4 separate regions of the Homo sapiens genome follow, and all the other regions are linked to region 1. Evidence: fine-mapped expression QTL. A gene starts in region 1. Each other region holds a variant in brackets. All regions are shown on one strand. Distances are between the middles of the regions.

The links. PIP is the estimated chance that this variant, and not a neighbour inherited with it, causes the effect.
Region 2: its variant is fine-mapped to the expression of TCERG1L in thyroid (GTEx, PIP above 0.99).
Region 3: its variant is fine-mapped to the expression of TCERG1L in thyroid (GTEx, PIP above 0.99).
Region 4: its variant is fine-mapped to the expression of TCERG1L in thyroid (GTEx, PIP above 0.99).

What each region holds. Positions count from the first base shown.
Region 1 is chr10:131,308,677-131,314,421 of GRCh38, forward strand. TCERG1L (transcription elongation regulator 1 like) reads right to left here and starts at 3,045. Exons shown (of 12, transcript NM_174937.4): 1 at 2,618-3,045; 2 at 477-623. The coding sequence starts at 2,959. LOC101927461 (a long non-coding RNA gene) reads left to right here and starts at 3,180. Exons shown (of 3, transcript XR_242763.6): 1 at 3,180-3,598; 2 at 5,458-5,603.
Region 2 is chr10:131,167,104-131,172,848 of GRCh38, forward strand. All of the region lies in intron 4 of TCERG1L (transcription elongation regulator 1 like), which reads right to left. Among named protein-coding and RNA genes, the nearest start is that of TCERG1L-AS1, 75 kb to the left of the region's middle. RefSeq lists an enhancer at 203-703. The variant T/C (reference allele first, on the strand shown) is at 3,035.
Region 3 is chr10:131,145,157-131,150,901 of GRCh38, forward strand. It overlaps TCERG1L (transcription elongation regulator 1 like), which reads right to left. Exons shown (of 12, transcript NM_174937.4): 7 at 1,350-1,504. Among named protein-coding and RNA genes, the nearest start is that of TCERG1L-AS1, 53 kb to the left of the region's middle. RefSeq lists an enhancer at 1,994-2,495. The variant A/G (reference allele first, on the strand shown) is at 2,381.
Region 4 is chr10:131,200,092-131,205,836 of GRCh38, forward strand. All of the region lies in intron 4 of TCERG1L (transcription elongation regulator 1 like), which reads right to left. LOC105378563 (a long non-coding RNA gene) reads right to left here. Exons shown (of 5, transcript XR_946484.1): 4 at 4,428-5,745; 5 at 2,462-4,163. Among named protein-coding and RNA genes, the nearest start is that of TCERG1L-AS1, 110 kb to the left of the region's middle. The variant G/A (reference allele first, on the strand shown) is at 3,053.

The sequences.
Region 1 (5,745 bases):
CTAAGCTGTATGACAAGTCAATACTTTACTTCTTTAGTTTCCTTGTGAACAAAATGTAGTCAGTAAATTTGAACCCGAAAGCCAAAACAAACCATTAGAAAGATGAAAACTTAAAGCATCATATGAAGAAAAACTGACTTTTAAAACTTCAACTGGTATTGTGTAATGTTCAAGTCTAGATTTTTGATCAATGGATACAAATTTAAAAACAAAAAAATTTTAAAAAAGACTCTGATTCAAAAATTGGAAATTTTACATTGCCCTGTGGAATCCAAATATCCTAAACTAAAACAAAATGCCCCCCACCAGCTGATATTTTTGAACAAATCAATCTAATCCTGAAATGATTTATTTCTATACCTAGATGGCCAATTTATGGCAACAAGAAAATACATGGGTATTTTTGTTGTTATGTCGATGTTCGACAACTTAATCATTAAAAGCCCCTTATCCAATTAAATCACTTGCGTTTTTACCTTACAGTTAGGAATCCTTTTGTCTATCCAACTTTTCCCAATAGGGGTTGCAAGAGCAGAAGGGCAGAGATGTGGGAAGACGGGCACCAGCTCCACTGTGGAAGAGGGGGGCAGTCCTAGGGACGGAGAATGGCCACCAAACAGCCACTGCAAGCCAAGCAAGAAAAGACAGCTGCATTAGCCTGAATCCATCCACTCGACTTCATGCCAAAACATGCTGGAATAACTGCTTTGAAAAGGGAATTTCAAAATGTATGTATTTGATTATCAGATAAATTTCCTCGAGAAAAACTATAAGTATGTACCAATCAAAGAAAAAATTATAGAAGTTTTCATATCTGAATCATCACAAAGCATTACCAACATTGCATTCTTCAATACTGAAAAAGAACTTCTAAGCACAAAACCACAAGCACGCAGTAAGAAATGGGTTTCTGCTCTGAGATAATGAGAAATCACCATGAAGAAGAGAAATGCTGGGTATTCCTTTTCTAATTCTTAAATTATTTTTATAGGCAGGCTTAGGGCTATATTTTATAATATTCCTTTCAGCATTGCATTTTGTATTAATTACTTTTGTCGTTTTACAAATAACTAATACTTTCAAAATGAAAATATCTAGGAAGTTAAGATTCCAAGTTTCACCAATACAAGGTTCACCAATACAAATAGATTCTATGGCAAAAAAAAAAAAAAAAAAAAAAAAACTAAGCATCTTCTAAGTTGAAGATCTCAATACACAGAATAAAACATCAGTCATGGAAAGGGGCTGGTAATTCAGGGCACCGTCTCTCTAATTAAAATAACTGAGACCTCATAAGGCACTAATAAAATGCATTGCTCAATGACATGGAACGTTTCAGTACCTATTGTTTTAAAATCGTAAAAGCATTTGTGATGTTCCTGTTACATGAAAATGTTCTTCTGGTTGTACATATTCTTACTTTACAGAAGCTGGGTAGCACAAAAATATTTAAAAGATTAATGCTAAGGTTTTTTAAATTTTCTTTTAAATTTATATAAGTGAAAAAATGCAGTTTTTTAAAGCAGAATTTAAAAAATGTAGTTCCTTGACATTATATACCTCTAGTGGCAGCACTCTGATATAACACCCCTCCAAAATACGGCAAAAACTACCAACGTTTCTTGAATAAAATCCAAAATAAACTGCATCACACATAAAAATACAATATCCAGTGCTGCATATGTGATGTATCATTAAGTCTAAAGACCAATTTAGCAGGAGTTTAACAACATCTTTTAGAAAAGCTCACAAGATAATATTGGAATTAAATTAATCAAATGGTGTATTCTAACATAACACCCGTTTGAATATGCTAATGAGGTCAATCCTTGGAATAAAATGCACGCTATTCCCTGATTTAAATGCATCTGCATAGTTAGCTGACAATGAATCTTGCCCAAACCAGCCCGCCTAGCTCTGCTGCACCATTTATCAAAGGTTCAGTCACTTTTTCTTTTTAATCCCATGTCTTAAAAGCCAAACTCTAGTTCTAAAGTGCAGTGTGGCATTAGCGAATGTGGTGGACTCCGGCAGGCCTGGGGCAGGGGAATCTCCGGTAACATCCCTCAGTACCGAAGGCAGGATTTCCCGGCCACTTCCGTCGGTTGGAATTCTCTTAAGCATTGCCCTGAGTCTATTTTCAAATGAAAGGGGGAAAAACCCAAACCAGATTAGAATCTGAAACAGCTGAAACAGCTATCGATTTCCAGCTTGCTTTCAAGTCTGGCAGAGACTGTGAAAGTCCTAACTTCTCCGCGATGTCAGCCACGGCCCGCGGCGGTCACGGAGCCACTTCAGCACCTCGCGATGGACAGTGACCCCCGGCGTGGCGCGAGTTCCCTGCGGTCCCCACGCGGGCCTGGGCGGCGGGTCCCTCCACGGCTCCGTCCAGACACCCGGAGGCACCTGCCAAAGCTGCGGAGGTGGACGACCGGGCGTCCAAGCACGAACTTTCTCGCCGAGGCACGGCTGCCGGGCTCCGTCCTGAGGGTTTGGGGCGGCGAGGACCGCCGGGGAGGAGGGCGCGCGAGCCGGAGGCCAGAGCCGGGCCGGGCAGGGCGCGCCCAGGAGCAGGGGAGACGGCGACCCGGGCCGAGGCGGGACGGGGACACGTTACCTGCCCGTGGAGCGCGGGGAAGGGGTGCGCGGCGGCGGCGGCGGCGGAGTCTGGCGCAGAGGGCAGCGGCAGCAGCGGGAGCACCGGCTCGCTCGGGGCCGGCCAGCCGGGGAGACCGGGGAGCAGCGGGGCCGCGGGCGGCGGGGCCGAGGCGAGCAGCACCGGGGGAACCACGACCCCCGCGCTGAGCCGGAGCAGCCCGGCCGAGCCCGGCACCATCCAGACCCAGGGCGGCGGCGGCGGCGGCTCTGCGTCCATCGGCCAGAGGAGAGGCTGCCGCCGCCGGGGCTGCTGCTGCTGCAGCTGCCGCCGCCGCCGCTGGAACCTGGCGCCCGCCTGCATCCTACATCCCCGCGCTGACGGCGGCGGCGGGGGCGGCGGGCGCCCGAGATGCTGGGCCGGCGGCGGCGCGGCTCCGGAGCGAACTCACTTGGCTCCGCGGCGCGGCCGCTCGCTCCGCCCCTGCCCCGCGCGGGAAGCTCCTCCTCCTCCCGCCCGCGCCGCCGCCGCCCCCGGACCCGGCCCCCGCCCCGGTCCCCGCCCGCCCGCGCCCCTCCCCGCCGGACCCCGCCCCGCCCTCGCGCTCCCCGGCCCTGGCCGGGGTCTCCTCCCCGCTGCGCCCCTGGACCCGGGCGGCCGCGGAGGACGTGGGTGGGAGAGGGCCGAGGGCGCGCCCGGCTGGGCTCCCGCCGATGCCGGCCCCCTGGTGGCCTCTGGCCCTCTGGGACCCAGCGCACCGCGAGGGAGGCTCCGGGCTCCGCACTCAAGGGCAAGCGGAAGCCGAGGTGGCGGCGCCGGAGCCAGGCATGTCCCGCTGCCCAGCGCGGGGCTGAGGGCGCAGACGGGGACCGCGCGAGCCGCTCTCTACCTGGCCTCCTCGGAGTCCAGGGCGCGGAGGGTACTGGGCTGCGGATCCGGCGCAGGCGGCCCCGGACGCTGCTAGGCGCGGGCGGATTTCTGTTGCACAAATGGGCCAAACAGGTTCGTAAGGCCCCCGCGGGTCCCCTGGCCCGGAAGTTGAGCCGCGGGTGCCTGGTCTGAAGTTCCGCGCCCCACAGTGGCCCGCGGGCCTCGGCGGCTCCTGCCCTACGCCCTCCAAGGCACCAGGCAGGTGGCCCCAGGGCCTTTGCCCACGACACCCCCTGGGTGGGGCAGGACCACCCCTCTGTGAATTCGTCCTGGATGCCCCCAGGCACAGTCTGTACTCCTCCCTCCCCCAGCACACGCGGCCTCTGACGCTGCACGCCGAGCTTCCTGGGACCCAGGACGAACCGGGCTCCAAGGACCCTCGCTCCGCCCGGACCACACGCAGGCAGCGCCGGCCGAGCCGAGCCTGGGTCCGCACTGGCCACGCGCAGCCACCGCCAGACGGCGCTAGCCCTCCCCCGCTGTAGACCCTGCTTCGGAGGCCGCCAGCCTCCTCCCCATCCCGGGTCCACAGCTTCAGTGCAGCCCCTGGCGACGCGCGCTGACAGCTGGGCAGAGACTTCCGTGCGCTGTAAACCCCTTAGGTCGCTAAACCCAGGAAACCCAAGCACAGCTAATGCCAGCGCGAGACCAGTGTTGTTAGAGGCATTTGAAGGGTCTTTCTGGATGCAAAAGGCAGCATTATGATCCATGCATTTAAGAACTTGCATGAAAAACCCTCCCTGACCTGGGTGGGAGAGCAGGCACCCACCCACCCAGCGGCACTGACACGCCTGGTACTCCAAACCCGTGTTCGCATCACCTCCCACCTGTCCACTGCCAACCTCCTGAGATGGCCTAAAGCACCCGAGTGCTTTTAATTTGCGTCTAGGGTTGTTTCCTCATTATCCTGATTTGCTTAATTTCCTCTTGGCCTGGCCTGATTTCTTTTAGATCTGGGCATATGCTGATTTACATAGCTGGCGCCTCCATATTTTCCTCCACGAAAACCAGTTTTCAATTAGCAAGTTTATCTCTCTCTTTGATGCAAAAGTACTGGCATTTTTTTTATTCACCTAAAATCAGAAAGCTCTGCACATTAGAAGGCTGTTACTATTCACTTACACCCTTAATTTATGTGCATATATTAGTATGTGCACATGTGTTATAAATGTGTTAGTTTAATGGTCAGAGCCAGATCAGGATATTGGGGAGGCGTCTCCAGGCAGGCTCACATGCCCCTGCCACCCCCCACCTCCCCCACCGCATAGTCCCTTTTGCACAGGAGATTCTCCTTCCTTCTGCTTGGAGGCAGAGACAGAAGGCCAGGGGTGCTCGTGCCTGGCTTGCATGCTGTTCTCTGCAAAAGCAGGGTTTTGCGTGTGTGGCCCCCAGGTTCCTGGGAAGGTAGGGTTGGCCACAGTCTGTGGGAGCTGTAGCACTCCTTTGGGGAATCCCAGCCCCATCCCCACTGTCCTAGAAAGGGTTCTGCTGAAGTCCGTTTTTGCCAGCACCCCTCCGGGCTTCCTGATGCTCTGAGCTCAGGACCCCTTGAGCCACTACTTGGCTCTGAAGAAGAGCTGGAAAGTCGAAAGCAGCTCTTGACTCAACCACAAAGCGGCCTAAACTCTTGCTATTTCCTGCCACAAGCTTGACTCTCCTTTTGTATGACAATGCTTGGGAGCCCTTTTCTGTACCATTCTGTGTGCTAAATTATGGGAAAACAGCCCTCAACGACGCAGGCACGGCCATTTCCACTAATCGTTGCTAGGGCCAAGGACCCAGCACAGGGCTTCTCCCCCTCCTCCTGGCTCTCATTTCTGTCAGATTCTTTTCAAGGTTTGCCTCTCATCCCGTTTAACCCGGGAACCTTCTACACCCTCATGGATAGGAGAAGCCCCCTCATAGATACACTCATTTCAATGATTGTTTAGAAGGACCGCCTCCATGAACCGGTTCTGCAAATGTCATTTGTACATCTTGAGGATGGTTGAAAGAGCGAAGGCAAAGAAGATGCAAAGAAGACAGCTGTCACACAAACAAGCAGGATGCCACCTTCTTCCTGGGGACCAGAAGCCAGGTGAATGTCTAGCTTTGAGCTGGGACTCTCTGCCAGAGAGATGTGTGCTGGCAGGCACATCTCCCTCCCTGTGAGTGCCCCCAGAGGTCAGCCCTGGGCAGACAGGTGGCAGGCACCCCATAAACTCGCCCTTTGTTTCCCT
Region 2 (5,745 bases), 140 kb before region 1:
CAGAGGCCTGGGCACACACATGCACCTCTGGACTCCCCAGCCCGACCTCCCGGCATCCCTCTCCTGTGCCTGTGTGTGCAGGCAGTGTTCACTCCACCCTGGACTCAGCCTCTTGGACAAGCAGGAAACAAGCCCAAAAGTGGGAGGCCCGAGACTTGGCTGTTGTCCATCTGGTGACAATCACCAGGGTGAGGCTGTGACAACCCTCACACTCGCAGCCCAGTGGGCCCAGGGTGGGAGTGCTGTGCCCAGGTGTGTGGATGTCTTGGGGCTGCTCTCTCGCATTGTGGGGCCCCCAGTGCGCTGGGCAGTCAGGAGCCTCCTCCAGTGATGCCAACCTGCGCCCTGGACTCCATCTATGCCCAGGCTGGGTGCCATCTAAAACACTGTTGGCCAAGCCTTGTGAACTGGGCCACGTGGGTCACAGATGAATAGGACACAGGACCTTCCCAAGAAGGACAAAGGGCCAGTGTAGGACAACAGAACCAGCCTTGCTGAGGTTCTGCCAGCTGGTGGCCATGATGGGCTGCCCTTGGTCCTGGCCCTGCCAAGGGGACAGGAGGGGCTATGTGCAGGCCACACCGCCAGTGACCGTGGCTTACTGGCCGCCATGGTGGGCCCTGGTTTTTCCAGGGGGCCGGACCCACAGCACTTGGAAAGGTGCTTGTTTCAGGGGAGGAAGGGATTCTGCAAATTCCCAAAGATTGTTACTTTTTTGTCTTCTCCAAAAATGTCTATCTAACTCTCAAAATTTTGCAAGTAGATTCAGGGAAAAACAGTAAAGCAAGGTTGAGCTCTGTTTTAATACCAAGAATAAAAAGAAGGACCCAAACCATCTAACCACACACCAACCTAAAACAATAGATAAGTTCTCAAAGGAAAGCCCTGGCCAGGTCTCATGGGTGTGCAGGGCAGGACCCTTGGGAAGCAGAGATTTGTTTAGCTTGATCCAGAGCTCAAGACTGGGCAGTGCAGTCAGGGAGGCCTGGGTATGCTCCTTCCTGGTAGACGGAAGGATGGGGAATTAACGTAAATCACTTTATACGTGTGTGCACACAACACACAGGTGCGTATATGCACACACACACATAGAAAGGATGTCCTCTGGCCCCTTCAAGCTACACGTCTGTGCTTGAAGGGGGTGAAAGGCAAGACTGGGGGTCCCACTGGCACACCCCACCTTCTAGCCTTTCTTCCTTGCCCCACTGCAAACTGGGGCCCCTCTGCAGCTCCGGGAAGGAGATTTGCATAGCTCTGCATGGGGCCAGCTGTCATGTCCTCCGTGGGCATTGGCACCTGTCTGGCTTGCGGCTGCAGAGCCAGGTGGTCTGCAAGGCATCCCTCCCCAGCACCCTTGGGAGGAAGCCCCTCATTTGAGTTGGGTCAATCAGCAAATTTATTTCAGGTGCGGAGCAGCAACACTAAGGCAGCCCAGACGTGAGCCGGAGGCCCCATCCCCGGAGGTGCTGAGTTCGGATGAGGCAGAAACACAGCATTCCACCCCTGACTCCCCTCCATCCAGTGAGCGGGTGGAGGAATGCCCAGCCTGTCCACCTCTTTCACTCTGCACAGCGCCCTGCCGGGCAGGCTCTCCCCAGGGCTGGGTGGCTGGTCTGCCCTTAGTGCCGGCTGCTGGCAAATAGGCTGAGCAGGGATCCCTGAGGGCGCCGGCCTCCTCCGTCATTGCCACTTTACGAGGGTGTCCACACAGAGTCTACACTGCACACTCTTCCTTCACAAGAGGCCTGCCAAGGCCGACCACAGGGCTCCCATACAGCCATGACCACCCCAAGAGACGCCCTCAGGCCTGACAGCTGCGTGCACAGGTCTATTTCAAGGTTGGCCTTGGGGAAGGGACTATCGGCTTTTCACTGAACCAGGTAACCAAGCCTGAGTCAAGAAAAGATTTCAGGACAGTGGAAATATTTTACTGTCACTCAGGAAGAGAAGCAGAGTCCCTGGATTGCATTAAGATTTCCGGAACTCTGTTAAGAATTACTCCCAGAGCCCATTCTTGTCAAGGTGCAGCGGTCATCAAGCAGCCTGGACACCGGGTCTCTGTCCTGATCCTGCAGGGTCGTCCTGTCCCCACCCCATCTCTGCCTCCTCATCTACAAGATGGGATTAGCTGGTCACTACCTCTATGCCACAGAAAGGGGCAAGCAGATGGGGACACAGCCATGCCCTGGGGAACCCTCATTAAAAAACCCAGGGCTCTGTCCCTCTGCCTCCATCCTGCAGACACCAGAAGCAGCCCCCTGACTGAGGCACAAGGGGGCACACAAAGGAAGCTGAGCCCACCGTTCCCCTGCCCTCACAGACCCAACGCAAAGCAGGCCCAAGCGATGGGACGAGGGAAGTTAAACTTGGTGATTCAATGACCCAGCACTCCACATATTTCACGACTGCTCTGAGACCTATTTTTTGACTGGATATGAGTGGATGGCTTTTTACTACCTAAGAATGAGCCAAAAGTGAATTGGTTTAAATTTTATCTAAAGTACAGCAAAGAGCAAGTCCCAGGGAGGAAGTCTGGAGGGGTCGTGCACGGAAAGCTGAGGTTGTGTTTTAATTATATGCCACACACTCTATGTTTTCAATATGGCAGGTGCCTATAAAACACACAGCAATCTCAGTAGCAGAAATGCACGTCTGTATCTTCTACGAGCATGTAAATAAATACACATTGTGAAAAACTGTGTTAGGAACACTGGCAGCCTGCGAGGAGGCCGTAAGCCCATAATACTGTTCTCAAATGACAGCATTGCCTAGTTTACTCCCCATTACCTTGAGAAAACATATTAAGATATTTTTCATATTGAAAACAGTTGATCTTGTAAAAAATCAGATCTTAAAGTCTGGCTTTTGAGATAAACGGATTTACATTGTTCCTCATGAGTGCTTCTTAGAGGAGATATTGTTGATGATCATTTTAAAGCCCCCAGTCACAGACACACACCCCGGAATACCTGCGACAAATGTTTGTGCCTTGCCCTAAATAGTTTTCTTAATAACCGGCACTCTTTCACAGTCA[T/C]TGATTTTGCAGGTACCTTGGAGGTGTGTGGGTGGCACCAGGGGCTCACACACATAATTGGGTCTGCGTGTCAGCCATTCCACCGTGGAAGTGCTTATTCTACGGCTCTCCGGGGGCCACTTCCAGGGTCCACTCTGACATGCTTAAGTACTCTTTGCTTTGGGCCTCTCCACAAACTCTGATGATGTTGTCATAAACTCCTCCCTTGAGTGGCAGACAGAACTAGTTTATGGAGGAAAATCAACAAGTGTAAGACCATGGGCGCTAAAGTACTTCGGGGAGCATGCAATGTATTTCCGCCCTCCGAGAGAGGCACGGCGGTAATACCTTTCTGGGCAATGCCTCTATTGATCAAACCCAGCTCTGAGATGTGAAGTGCTCCCCAGCTCCCCAGTGCCCTTCAATGTAATTTTCCTCCTGGCAGTGATGAGAGACAAAGAGAACTGAGAAGGTCGCATGAAGTCTGGAAGGAAGCAAAAAAGCCTGTGCTAAAAACTCCCACGCCAGTCAGCTGACAAGCATTTATTCACTGCTCTTATAGAGTCCAGCACGACCGTCCTTGCTGGTGGGGAAGAAGTGAGAGGAAGTACTGTGAGCAATTAGACACTCCTCTCCTCCTCTCTCAAAGGGCCGCAGGGACTGGGGAGGGCATCCAGGGGAAAAGTATTCAACACCAGCCTCTTGAAGTCAAACCGGGCAACAAAATATCTCTTTAAGAAAAGTGTGGCGGCCGGGCGCCGTGGCTCACACCTATAATCCCAGCACTTTGGGAGGCCGAGGTGGGCGGATCACGAGGTCAAGAGTTCAAGACCAGCCTGGCCAAGATGGTGAAACCCTGTCTCTACTAAAAATACAAAAATTAGCTGGGCATGGTGGTGTATGCCTGTAATCCCAGCTACTCAGGAAGCTGAAGCAGAGAATTGCTTGAACCTGGGAGGCGGAGGTTGCAGTGAGCTGAGATCACGCCACTGCATTCCAGCCTGGGTGACAGAGCGAGGCTCCATCTCAAACAAAAACAAAAACAAAAACAAAAACACACACCAAAAAAAAGAAGAAAGAAAAAAAGAAAGAAAAGTGTGGAAAGAAAAACTGTCCTATCTCCTGGGCAAGTCTTAGCTTCAGAAACTCTTGGAACTCAGCAATCAATTCGCCCTGTTTCCCTGAAAGAAGGGGGAGGTGGGTTTGCTTGTGCCTGACCCGGGGTCAGGGTCCTGGAAGCTTTTCCGTATTGCGCTTCTCAGTCATTAATCCAGGCCCGAGGCACCTGTTCTCCTAGAGTGCCTGGAAGGTGAAGACTCAAAGGTATCATCATCACCTGGGGTCAGGCCTCAGCTCAAAGGCAGCACCAGGATGCGGGTCCAGTTGATGGCATATGCCATGTAGTCATCACACACCCTAAGACCAGCAAATGCTTCTTACATTGAATGAAGTATCAGGAATTTATTTATTTATTTATTTAGAGACAGGGTCTCACTCTGTCATCCAGGCTGGAGTGGGTTCACTGCAACCTTCAAGTGATTCTCCTGTCCTTCAAGTGATTCTCCCGTCTCAGCCTCCCGAGCAGCTGAGATTACAGGCATGCGCCACCACACCTGGCTCATTTTTGTATTTTTAGTAGAGATAGGGTTTCACCATGTTGGCCAGGCTGGTGTCGAACTCCTGACCTCAGGTGATCCTCCTGCCTCGGCCTCCCAAAGTGCTGGGATTACAGGCGTGAGCCACTGCGCCTGGCCCAGGAATTTATTTTAACATTCAAAAGAGTTTGTTTCTTTAAAAATTATTAAAATAAAGAACTACTCTAGGAAGTCAAAAGTGTCTAACTCATCAAAAAGTTATTAGAAATATATCAGTATCTCCCAATGCAAAAAGTAATTCTGAAAGTCAGTCCAATTTTAATTCCATAAATATTGACCTCCTTTGACCTCAGTTTCCTCATCCATAAAAGAAACTGTCTTGATTCTCTTCCAGTTCTGGGATTCCAAGTGTCAACATGATATCTGGAAGCGTGTGGAGTAAATCCCAAAGGAACTGGAGTTGCAGCCCTCACCATGAGGCTGTAAGAACATGCGTCTTCTGGTTTCCTGCCCGGGGAGGAGGGGAACCCGGGGAAGTGAATGGACCCCACGGGGGAGGAGGGGAACCCGGGGAAGTGAATGGACCCCACGGGGGAGGAGGGGAACCCAGGGAAGTGAATGGGCCCCAAGGAACAGGGAGAGAGAATTTCACCTTTCTATTCTGAAAGCCGAGAGCAACCGCTCATGCATTTGAAACCAACCTCCTCTGATGATCTTGGAACTAGGCAGGAAATCTCTTAGGCTGAGGAGGGCGTTGACTCACAGATGGTCTCCACCACCCCTGAGGCTGGAGGAAACTGGGAGGGCTTGGAGTTCTCGATTGTTGTAGACTACAGCCATTATGAAAAGGGTTCATGAGGAGCATCCATATCACGCGTGCTCCACGCGCGCTGGCTCCGCTCGCAGCTGGGAGCAGACCCTGAGACCAGCTCACGCGAGCCTTGCTTGGTTGGACATGCACGCCTGTCCAGTCGCCTCCATTCTTGGGGAGAACACCCAGGCCTGTGCCAGCCATGATGGTGGTAGGGTGGCAGGAGCCAACCGGGAGTCACTGGAGCCCTGTTTCTGTGTTTGTCACAATCTAGTGACCCCATTTCCATATATGAATGGTTTCACATCCAAGAGCATATAAGGTCT
Region 3 (5,745 bases), 160 kb before region 1:
TCATTGTTAGGACAAACTGTGCCTTAATGTTTCCCGTGGGATCTGAGGGTGTCCTGATTTCCCTAAACTGTGCACCATCTTCTTGTCCATGAGTAAGAACCTTGAAAGGGTGCTTCCTGTCATGATTTTAAAGCACTCTTTCAAGACGTACAAGGCCCTCTTTTAATAATGAATGTGACCTGATCAAAGGAGGAAATGCAATTGCCAAATTCAATCTTCATTGTCTGTAAATACAGCAACGTTTTACAGACTCAACTCCATATGGACCTTGGAGATTTTTCTTTTCCCAACATCAGTTGATCCAGTCTCTGGATAATGCTGTTACTATTTTAAATGGAATAAACATTTTAAATGTGTGATGTCTCAATCTTAAAAGACTACCACCATGTCTCTTAGCATGGTTAAAAATGCTGATAAAACTTTTATAATACTGTCTTCTGAAGCTTCAGTCAAATACCTCTGGATTTGACACAAAGTGTGAATTACCATCATCTAGCATTAGCCCTCAATGACGTGAAATTAAAAATGCCACTAAGAACCCAATAGAATACCACACAAAACTAAAACAAAGAGTCAAGCTCCCCTTTCACTGGCCTGGCCTTGTAGCCAGGCATCTCTGCCTCTCAAGTTGGCAGGGAGCTCCTGCTCTCAAATGTCTGCAGTGGAGTCAAGACCGTTTGAATCCACATGCTCTGGGAGGAGGGCTTTCCCCACGCAGCAGCTAATAAAATATGTATTAGATCTAATCGGAAAAGATCCTTTGTGAAAATGCTGAAAGTTCCTCTCTGTTTCTTGGCGAAACAAGATTTACAGGCATTGTCAGAAACAACTGCCTCTGCCAAGCACCCCATTCCTCTGCAGCTGAAGAAAATCTCTTCCCCTGTCCGTGACCAGGGTTTTATGGAATTGAGGCATCCATCCAAGCACAACAGCAGATCAATGTGCTGCAAAGGTCTAAAGTGAATGTAAGGTGGAAGAAAACACACTCCCATCTGCGTACATCTGGTCTCTGAAGTGGCGTTCATAAGACATTTGGAACAAGAATAAAATGCTGGGTAACAGTGATGCTGGATGGAAGCTTTGAGGGGCGGAGGGAATGAATGGCCATCTCTGCGTTAATCACCTTACGTGATGCAAAAAGACAGCCAGAGCCGACCGCTTGGAAGGATCAAGGTTTCTGCAGGAAGTGCCATAAAAACTTGATTACTAAACTCTGCAATCGGGCACAGGATTCCTTAATAGTCAATTTTCAACATAACCAAGAAGAAACATGCTTTCACTTTACGTTCATTAGAAATAAGCAGCTTAAACACTTCAAAGGAGGTGTAAATAACCCAGGGCTTAGTTACTTGCTGGTGCCTCCAGCTTGCGTTTGTGGGGCGGGTCCTCAATGATCCTGTTGAGGTCTCCGCGGTCCTTCAGGTCCATGGGCTTCTCCCAGACAGACAGGTGCATCGTTGGGTTGAAGAAGAAAACTCGGTCATCGCCCGTCCAGACCACACACCTGTTTGAGTGGAAAAACTCATCTCAGTCGCTCTCGGAGACACTTAATTAGAAAGTCGTTAGCATGAACTCTCACTGAAAAAGCCCCTCAGGACCGAAATCCACACATTTGCAAAGCTTGTTTATGGATAGTATGAATACTAAAGACAAAGCCTGCCTTTTTAGGTGACCTTACGGATCTGACTCATTTGATTAACAGGTAGACATTCTTATCACCAGCCTTAGACCAGGGAGAACAACAACATTCAGAGAAGCCAAGCAGCTCATCAAGGTCACAGGCAGGCAGAGCTCTCTCCAGCCCACCAGCTGTCACTGCCTCAGTGAAATTCCATTCCAGATGCAGAGCACTCTGGGGCGCCTCCTGGCCCTGGTTCCGGCAATAGAGTAATTCGGAGAGCGGCTCCCTACACTTCCCCAGTTGAGCTCTGCATGGCCATCAAGCAATGCGCACGGCCACAGGTCATTACCCTCCGGCAGCAGCAGAATTAAAAGGGCTGCTGTCATTAGCAACCACAGCCCCGGTGTCCTGCTCATTTGTGGATGGGCAAATAAGGAAGATTTGTATTTTCATTTATGGAAACTGAAGACATCTAAAAGGAATTATGTGCCCTTTTTAAGCCCCTTATCTGTGAAAAGTTATCAGAAAAGATTAAAAAGAAAAAAAAATGAAGAGAAGAAAATTAATGAGAGGGAAGGAAAGGAAAAAAGTCCCTCCCTAAGGAATGCGGGTCCGGGAGCCTGCGGCATGGAGGTGCACGGGAGACTCTGCACTCTGACACTCTGACCCCGCGCTGTCCCCACGAGCAAGCGCGGCAGATAAAGGCCAGCAAGGCCGGCCGGGGCTCTGGGTTTAACCCCTAAGTCGTGTCAGGGTGCT[A/G]TTAGAGATTGAGGCCTGTGCTGGCACCGAGGCCCGTTCCAGGTGTGGACCTCCCAGGAGGTTCCCCTGGGGCAAGCCCCCTCCCCTCTCTGGGCCTCGGCTTCCTGCAGTGACTTCAGAAGGTCCCTCTGGCTCCGCAAGTCTCCTGGGACTTTTCAGATGTGCAGGAGTGAATGGGTGGGAACACCCACATACCCACCTCTAGCTATTGACTTCCCCGAGGGAGGCCCCCGACCTGTTGGGGGTACTGTCGGGCACGGCCTAGGCCCCCGGTAGCCCACTCACGCCTCACTCCCGCCAGCCTCGCACAGGTTCGGGAGGAGCTGGGGATTCGTGCCAAAAGAAGCCACTCTGTTCTGCATGCAGAAAATCACTCCACACTTCACTCACCCAGGCACGTTCCATGGGCCAGGCAGAGGGCTCAGGGCCTGGGGCCCTGCATGTTGGCAACCCTGGGCAGACCAGGACCCCTCCCAGAAATCACCCTGAGAAGGTGTGCCGGCTCCACTACTCAGCCCAGCCACGCTCATGAGTGTGGGAGCCAAAATGATGGCTCCAAAGACGTCCACGTCCTGATCCCTAGAACAGGTGTGCATCACCTTACATGGCAAAGGGTCTGTACAGTTGGGATTAGGACCCTGAGATGGGGGAATAGCCTGGTCATTCAGGTGGCCCCAAATGTAATCACAAGGGTCCTTCTAAGAGGGAGGTGGGAAGATCAGTGAGGAAGAGATAGGAAGATGGAGGCAGAGGTGTTTCACACAAACACACTCTCAGAGACACACACAAACACACATACACACAAACAGACACACAGAGACACACATGCACACAGACATAGAGACACACACATAAACACACAGATATACAGAGACACACATGCACACAGAGACACACACATGCAGAGATACACACATAAACACACACAGACACATACACAGACACATGCACACATATATACACACACAAAGGGACACAAATGCACACATATACACATGCACAGAGACACACACATGCAGAGAAACACACATACACACAAATACAGACACACAGACACACATGCACACGTAGACACACACAGAGACACACATGCACACACACACGGAGAGACAGAGATCGGGAGATGCCTGGCCTTGAGGCTGGAGAAAGGAATCACGAGCTCAGGGTTGCAGGGGCCTCTGGAAGATGGAAAAGGCAGGAAATGGACCTCCCCATAGGCTCCAGAAGGATCCAGCCCTGCCCACACCTTGACTTTCGCCCAGTGAGACCTGTGTCAGACTTCTGATCCTCCCAACTGTAAGAGAATCAATGTGTGTCGCTGGAGCCCTGAGTCTGTGGGAGACGAATCAATGGGCTTCCCCCTCGGGGCGACTCTGTCCTGAGCACCAGCATCTGGGAGCCCTGACCTGAACCCCAAGTGTTGTGCCTGGAGGCCTTGGCCACAGCTGGCCTGGTCATCCATGTGGGAGAATATGACCTGCCCTTCTGCCTGGCAAACTTTCCAGCTCCAGCCCTGCCCTTGACCTACCAGGTGACCCTGAGAAGGTCGCCTCCCCTCGCTGGTGGCCTCATGCCCTCAACCCTTCAGATGGGGGGTGGAATGGGAATTTGCTTTATCTGGACAGTCCACCCAACTAGGGAAATGGACCAAGATAGAGTGTATCACACTCCCATGCCAGGTCCTGCCCTCAGGGGAGCGGGCTCATGGGCCCGTGGGGTGCTGCCCAGGCCCATGCTGGAGGCTGGAAAATGAGGCTGGCCAACTACAGCAGACTCCACACCCAGGTAGCTGGATCCCTTCCTGCTCTCAGATCAGGCAGACCATTGTCCCCAGCAAGCCCAGGCCAGGGATACCTGACCTCTGGGGCCTGCAGGGAGGCTGTGGGTATGCATTTATGGTGCAGAACCCGGCTAGCATAGGAAGTTTTTATTGAGTCTAAAGCTGAAGGTAACCACACTGTGCTGTAAATTATGCACAATTCAGCTACTATATGAACTCTGCAGACAGCATGGGCCAATAGGGAACATAAGCCCAGGGTAGAGACTGACTCCTTTCCTCCAGACGCAGACCTGGTGATGACCTGCTTCCCGGGTGGAGCTGTGAGTGAGTGGGCCACAGGCAGAGCCTATTATTAGCTCCCCACGAGGCCTGGGCTCTTTGGCAACACGTAGGACGTGGACAGTTTTACTACTGCGACATTGGGCTCTGTCTCCAGGCACCCCTCTTGCAAGGAATGCAGCTAGACTCATCGATGAGACCCTGATGCCAGCGGGGGTGCAGGGAGTGAAGAAACCCTGAGCCCGCCTCCTCATGCTGTATGTCTCATGCCCAGCATGTCAGGACCAGAGGAAGCCCAGATCCGGCCCCTCAAGGGCTTCAGAAGCTTCCATGACTGGACAGTGGCTGGAAAGGCAGCCCCAAGCCTGAAGCTCCCAGCAGCAAGAGGGCCCATTTCTAACAGTATTGCTTGGGATGTTTTTTCATGATGTTTTGCTGCAACTGGTCTGAGTGGCAAATCCTAGAAGCGTCCTTGGCTCTCTGTGTTCCTCTCTAGCAACTTAAGACTTAAAACCTGTTGTGTAAACCCATGAAGGTCTCACCAGGAGCCTGACCTCACCTGGAGAGCACAGAACAACTTCCTGTGACCTGGGTACAGCAGATGGACCTGTTGAGCACCATGTTTCTGGCAGGAGGCCATCTGGCCCCCAGCCTCCAACGGCCTCACCCAGAGGTGGGGGGACCTGTGTGCTCCTCTAGAGTCACTGAAGTGTGGGGATACTCAGCCAGGGGCCAGATGCTCACTGAGGCATCTCCAGTTCACTAAGAGCTGCTAGGTGCACACAGTGTCAGGCATTCATACTGCATTCCACAAGCAACAGGGCCACGGGAGAATTATCCGGAAGCCAGAGGCCTCGGGACACAGGCTCAGACTGGCTGAGTGGCCCCATCCAATCCCAACCCTCCCACTGGCTTGGGGAGCTTTCCTAACTTGGTAACTCGCCAGCTTTCCTGAACACCCAGGGGTGAGCCCTGAGCCAGTTGAGGGCCAGAGGACTGGGGGAAGAAGAAGCTGAAAGAGGTGAGAGGATGACCCATTTCCTGGCAGGGACCAGCAAGAGCTCTGTTCTGCCCACTGCAGAGTTTAAGAGAAACAGGACTTCAACTTTGGGCCCCGATAGCACACGTGGATCTCCTGTCATCCTGCGCTAGGCTGAGGGCAGGTCAGTGGCTGTATGAGTCCATTCTCACATTGCTGTAAGGAGATACCTGAGACTGGGTAATTTATAAAGAAAAGAGGTTTAATTGACTCACAGTTCCTCATGACTGGGGAGGCCTCAGGAAACTTACAATCATGGCAGAAGGC
Region 4 (5,745 bases), 110 kb before region 1:
CTCTGTTCATGGCAATGCAGGCTTTTCCCAGCATTCACTCTGAAACGATTCCAGCCTCTGCCCCATTCCTGGTTCTAAAGCTGCATTCACATGTTGGGTATATTTTATGGCAATAGCCCACTTCTCAGCACCAGTTTCTGCCTTAGTCTCGTTTGTGCTGCTAGACAAACGAGCTGAGGCTGGGTATTTTATGAAGAACAGAGGACAGAAGTCCAAGGCCAAGGCACTGGCAGCTCTGTTGTCTGATGCAAGTTCCTGGCCACTCCACCCCAAGGAGTGTGGAGGGCCCAACCCCTGCTCCTGTGTCTGGAACATGGAGTCAAAGAAGGTGATTCTCAAACCTCGAGATGTAATGCCATTTGCATTGTTGGGTATTGAAATTACTTTGGATCAGCTACTCTTTCCTTCTTGCCTATGTCTCCTTTTTGGAATCAGGATGTTTATCCTATGTGTGTTCCACCATTGTATTTTGGAATCGGATGACTTGCTTGATTTCGCAGGCTCACAGCTGGAGGGAAATTTTCCTCGGAATAAATCACACTTTGGGTCTCACTCATATGATGTTTAAAAGACTCTGCGCTTTTGAGTTGATGCTAGAACAAGTTAAAACGTTTGGAATTACTGAAATGGAATGAATGTATTTTGCGTGTGGGAAGGACTCAAGTTTTGAGGGTCAGAGTAGAATAATATAATTGAATATGTCCCCTCTAAAATTTAGAAGTTAAAACTTAATGGTCATGTGAACACATTAAGAGGTGGGGCCTTTAGGAGTCGCTTAGATCACAAGGGATCCTCCCTGGCAAAGGGGATGGAGGCCCTTATAAAAGAGGCTTCTCGCACGGTTATCTCCCACTTGCCTTTCCCCCTCCTGCCAGTGCTGTGAGGACACAGCCTCCCTCCCCTCGGGCGGATACAGAATCACGGCGCCATCTTGGACGTGGAGGGCAGCTTTTGTGGTCTCATGACCTGTTAAAGGCCGTGCCTCTTGACACCATCACACTGGCAACTAAGTTTCAACACATGAAACGTGGAGGGGACACATTGGAACCATCACAAGAGGTGAAAGAATTCCTGAGAGTCAGGCCCACCACCCGCATAGCTGGCTTTGCCTCCCTGGAAAGTGAGCCCCCAAAACACATCCCACTAAACTCAAACTAAATGAAGCACCTCCCTTCCCCCAGCTGGGTCCTGCCACACCTACAAACACTCCACCACCACCCACAAGGCAGGGACAGCGACAGAGAGGGTCACGCTGGGAACAGACAGCAGCCTTCCTGAGGCCATCGAACATCCGCAGATTTTACACAGACACGTGATCGTGGGAGCACAGCGCCAAGAGTTCCCCGGGGTCTCGTAAGGCGCCAAAAAGGAGGGTCCCAGTACTTCAGTTTCATTCATTCATTATGGACCCGTCACTGCCAATGTAGAATTGTTGCTTTACTTACTATTTTAACAAACGCCACAATCTTAGAAGCTCTTAATAAGCATGATTTAAATGGCTGCAAATAAAAAAATATATAAAAATAAAATAAATCAATGGCTGCCAAATATTTCTACAAAACATGGACTGCAATTTGCTCTGCTGCTGCTGTTGGGCATTTGGACTTCTTTTTTATATTTAATCTCCGAATTTTACACTGCATTCTGTGGGATGTCCTCATGCGTCCTTCTCTGCGGGACTGTAATGACCTTCTAAATGCTCAGCTGTGAGTGAGTTTTTCAGAGCTGCCGGCTTTGCTAAACATGGCTGCTCTTTTACCCCACGTCCACCACCACGCTGTGCTGAAGGCGCATCCATCGACCTTCCTCAGAGACGAGGAAAGAGCCAATGAAAGATGCTAGAAAGCTCTAACAAGTCCCAGGGCCACGTGGGGGTCACGGGGGCTGGTTCTCTCCAGATCCTGTAATGCGTTTCCGATGACTGCTCCTTAGGAAAGGTCCCATGGACAGAACTGCTGGGTTAAACAGACAAACTAATTAAGAGTCTCGATTTATATTAATCCATTTCTTTCCAGAAGCGTTGTACCAAACTGCATGATCACCAGCTGCACGTGAGCCTCCCGACCACATGAAGGAGCACAGAGAACGTACACGCTCAACTGATTGTAACAGCCCACGTTAGAAACAGACTGATGCCCCCAAAGCAAGTAGGTATGCGCATGTCTGCACCGTGGGGTACCACAAAAGCTGGTAAGGCCGGAACTTTTTCGCCGGGCGCGGTGGTTCATGCCTGTAATCCCAACACTTTGGGAGGCCGAGGAGGGCGGATCACCTGAGGTCAGGAGTCCGAGACCAGTCTGCGCAACATGGTGAAACCCCATTACCACTAAAAATACAAAAATGAGCCAGGCGTGGTGGCGAGTGCCTGTAATCCCAGATACAGGGAGACTGAGGCAGGAGAATCCCTTGAACCTGGGAGGCGGAGGTTGCAGTAAGACAAGATCATGCCACTGCACTCCAGCCTGGGTGACAGAGCAAGACTCCATCTCCAAAAAAAAATAAAAATAAAAAACAGATTTTTTCAAGTTCACTACATTTTGGTCTTTAAGGTACACTGCTAAGTAAAACAGTAACGTAGCGGAATTCAAGTCAATAACATCCTCTCCACATTTTCAGGAATCCATAGGCTTGCATGGAATACACTGGAAATATTCTGATTATCTGATTATCAATAGAAGTTTCCAATATGAGAAGAATAGGGTTGGGAGGAGCTTGATTCTATAAGCTTCTAAATTGTTTCCATTTTTAAAATAAAATATGTTCATTTTTTACAGTTTATTTAGAAAAAAGAAACACTTAAATAATTAAGTCTGCCGTCTGTGGAAACGTACACCTCAGTTTTGATTGCTTCATGATTCATATTAACCAGGTGCCATCCTAAGTGGAAGTTTGAGTGAAGAGGTTTATTCTGGTTCACAGATTGTGGGGACAGAAGTCAAAGGTCACGCCGACACCGATGTGCTTGATTTATCACACAGCTGCCAGGAATTCCACTTACAAATTCAAGAACCATAGACAACAGCCCTCAAAGCTTTTCAATGACAGCAGTGAC[G/A]CCTTCTCAGGAGTAGTGACAGTGTTCATGGATATGCGTATACCTGTCTTCAGCCCTCCGAGCTGCGCTCTCTGGGTTACAGAGCACAGCTGGGTGGTAGATGACCTCACTTAAGACTTCCAGTACGTCCCACTGCACTCTCGCATGGGTGACAGAGTGAGACTCCGTCTCAAAAAAAAAAAGACTTCCAGTATGTCACAGTGGTGACCTTCATGGTCTCGTCACTTAAGATCAGCTCACTGTTTAATGAGGCTGATGACAAAAAAGCACCCTAAGACCTCTTTGACCAGACAGCAAACTGCCTCTGGTAGAACATCCAAGCTGGCCCCAATCACAGGTGCTCACGTCTCTATTTTAAGGGAATGCATGCACAGGACTTCTCAGCCTCATGGGAAAACGCCCCCGTCATGTCAACCGTTCACATTCGAAGATGGTGCGTCTCTCCCATGAGGATGAATGTGGGTCACCGCAAACGATTCAGGGACACATCTGCTTCTGGTTTGTGGCCCTGCCATACCGAGTTTCAGAGAGGTTGGAATCCAGAGGCCAGTAGGGGCCGGGAGGTGGGGAAGGCACTCTCCTAACTGCTGCTTCTGCTCACATCCCGCCGGCGAGCGCTAGCCCTGGGGGCAGCCTGGGAAATGTGATGGCAGCCTCCCTAGCCACTTTCCACTTCAGACCTCCTCCAAGTGGGGGGTGGGCATCTTAAGGGGACAGCTGGCTGTCTCCACCGCAACCCAGCTGGGAGGGGAGAGGCGTGATGTCACATTAGGTCACACTAGGGCATGAATACGTGAGTCCCCACAAAACCCCAAAGTAGGAAGCTAAGCCCCAATAGGACGATATGAAGAGGTGAAACCTTTAGGAGATGTGAAGTGATGAGAGCAGAGCCCTCATGGATGGAATGAGCGACCTCATGGAAGGCCCGAAGGGAACCAGCTAGGCCCTCTTAGCCCTTGCTCCCTCCTGCCATGGGAGGACACAGCAAGGAGGCGCCATCTTGGAAGCCTGGTGGCTTAGCACTGGGCCTGGGCCTAGCTAGGGTCTTGGCAGCTCTCATCAGGCACCAGATCTGCTGATGCCTTGGTCCTGGACTTTCCATTCTCCAGACCTGTAAGAAAAGCATTTCTCATCTCTATAAATTGTCTAGTCTAAGAGTATAGAGGAGCGGGAACAGACTGAGACAGGTCACAAACCAGCAAGTGGGCTGGCCCGATGGCCCCACCACAAGCAGGCTCAGGAAACTGGCACCTGCCCCCCCACCCTGCCCCCGCATCTACATGGCCTCCATATGCACAGCTTGAAAATGGGGATGAGGATGAGTCCATCCACCCCAAATGCCAGAAAGCACCTGTCAAAGCCATTTCCCATGTACAGTGGAGAAACTGTCCGTGATGGTGGGTCCTGGCTTCCCAGCAGCGGTGGCCACAGTCACTGTGTGGGCTCCAGTGGGGCACGGAGCCAGCTCAGATCCAAAGGTGTGTGTCCTCAAATCAAAGGACATCTGTCCAGTGTCCTTCCACTAGAGGCTAAAATAAACCAATGAGCCTGCGGGTAAGGGAAGAATGTTTCTTGGGGCAGAAGACTCCCTTCAGGGAGAGGCCCCGATGGCAGTGGACTTGTCCCTCAGCCCCTTCACAGCCTGGCCCCAGGCAGAACAGGTTGGCTGGAGAGAAGAGCCCACCTCTCGGTTTTATGAACAGGCAGAGGAAGGGATCCTTGATGGAGGTTCACACCATCTCTGACCACAAGCCCAGTGGCCTTTCTGCTTGAAGTCCAGGGTCTTGACCATGGGGTCAGGGCTCACGTGCTCTGCAGCTGGATCTGGTCTAAGGCCCCTGTCCCTGGACCTGTCATGCCCTCAACCCCTGCCACCCGGCTCTTTCTGGGGCTGCACTGAGAATCCAGCCTCTCCCAGACCAAGCGGCCCATGGCATCAACTCAATGGCAGCCTCTCCCAAAATCCAATTTCATTACACCTGGCTTTACTGCCGTTGTGACTGACAAGTGGTCCCCTTAAAAAGGGAAAAAGAAGGTTAATGCTCGCAATTCATCCTTTTATCCCAACAGCTCTCCTTTATGGAACGCCACATAATTAACCAGTGACGTGCACGCCTCATTGTGAGGCACAAATCAGATGCATCCCAACTCTCTGCTGTGTCACTTGCTTCAGAAATGTGAAGCTATGAAACCTAAACAGGTTTTCAATTTCTCCTAATGTAAAAAAAAAAAAAAACAGCAATAAAATCAAAAAGTGAGAGAAAAAGGGAGAAAAAGTTAGACTCTGGAAATAGCATCCTTCATGAAACTACATTAGATGTGAATTATTCCCACAATGATTTCTCTGTGGAATTGCCTCATTCCAGCCTGTATCTCACATTAGGGAATTTTGTAACAGGCTGAACTTTTATTTAAAAATGCTTCTCTTAAGTAGCTCCAGTGCAGCCCTGGGGACGTGGAGGTAAACGCCGCCTTCCATGGCCTTCCCTTGGCAGGGCACATCCTGGCCTGGGGTCATGGGGCCACCCTGGCATCTCTGACTGCCACTTCCTGGAAAGGCAGCATGTCCGCAGCCACCTTGCTGAGGTCACCTGGTCTTGGAGGCTCAGCACGGCGGACCTCATCCTTCCTAAGAGGCTGCAAAGGTTGTTTTATCCAAAAGATGTTTTATGCAAAGGGTGCAGGAGACGGGA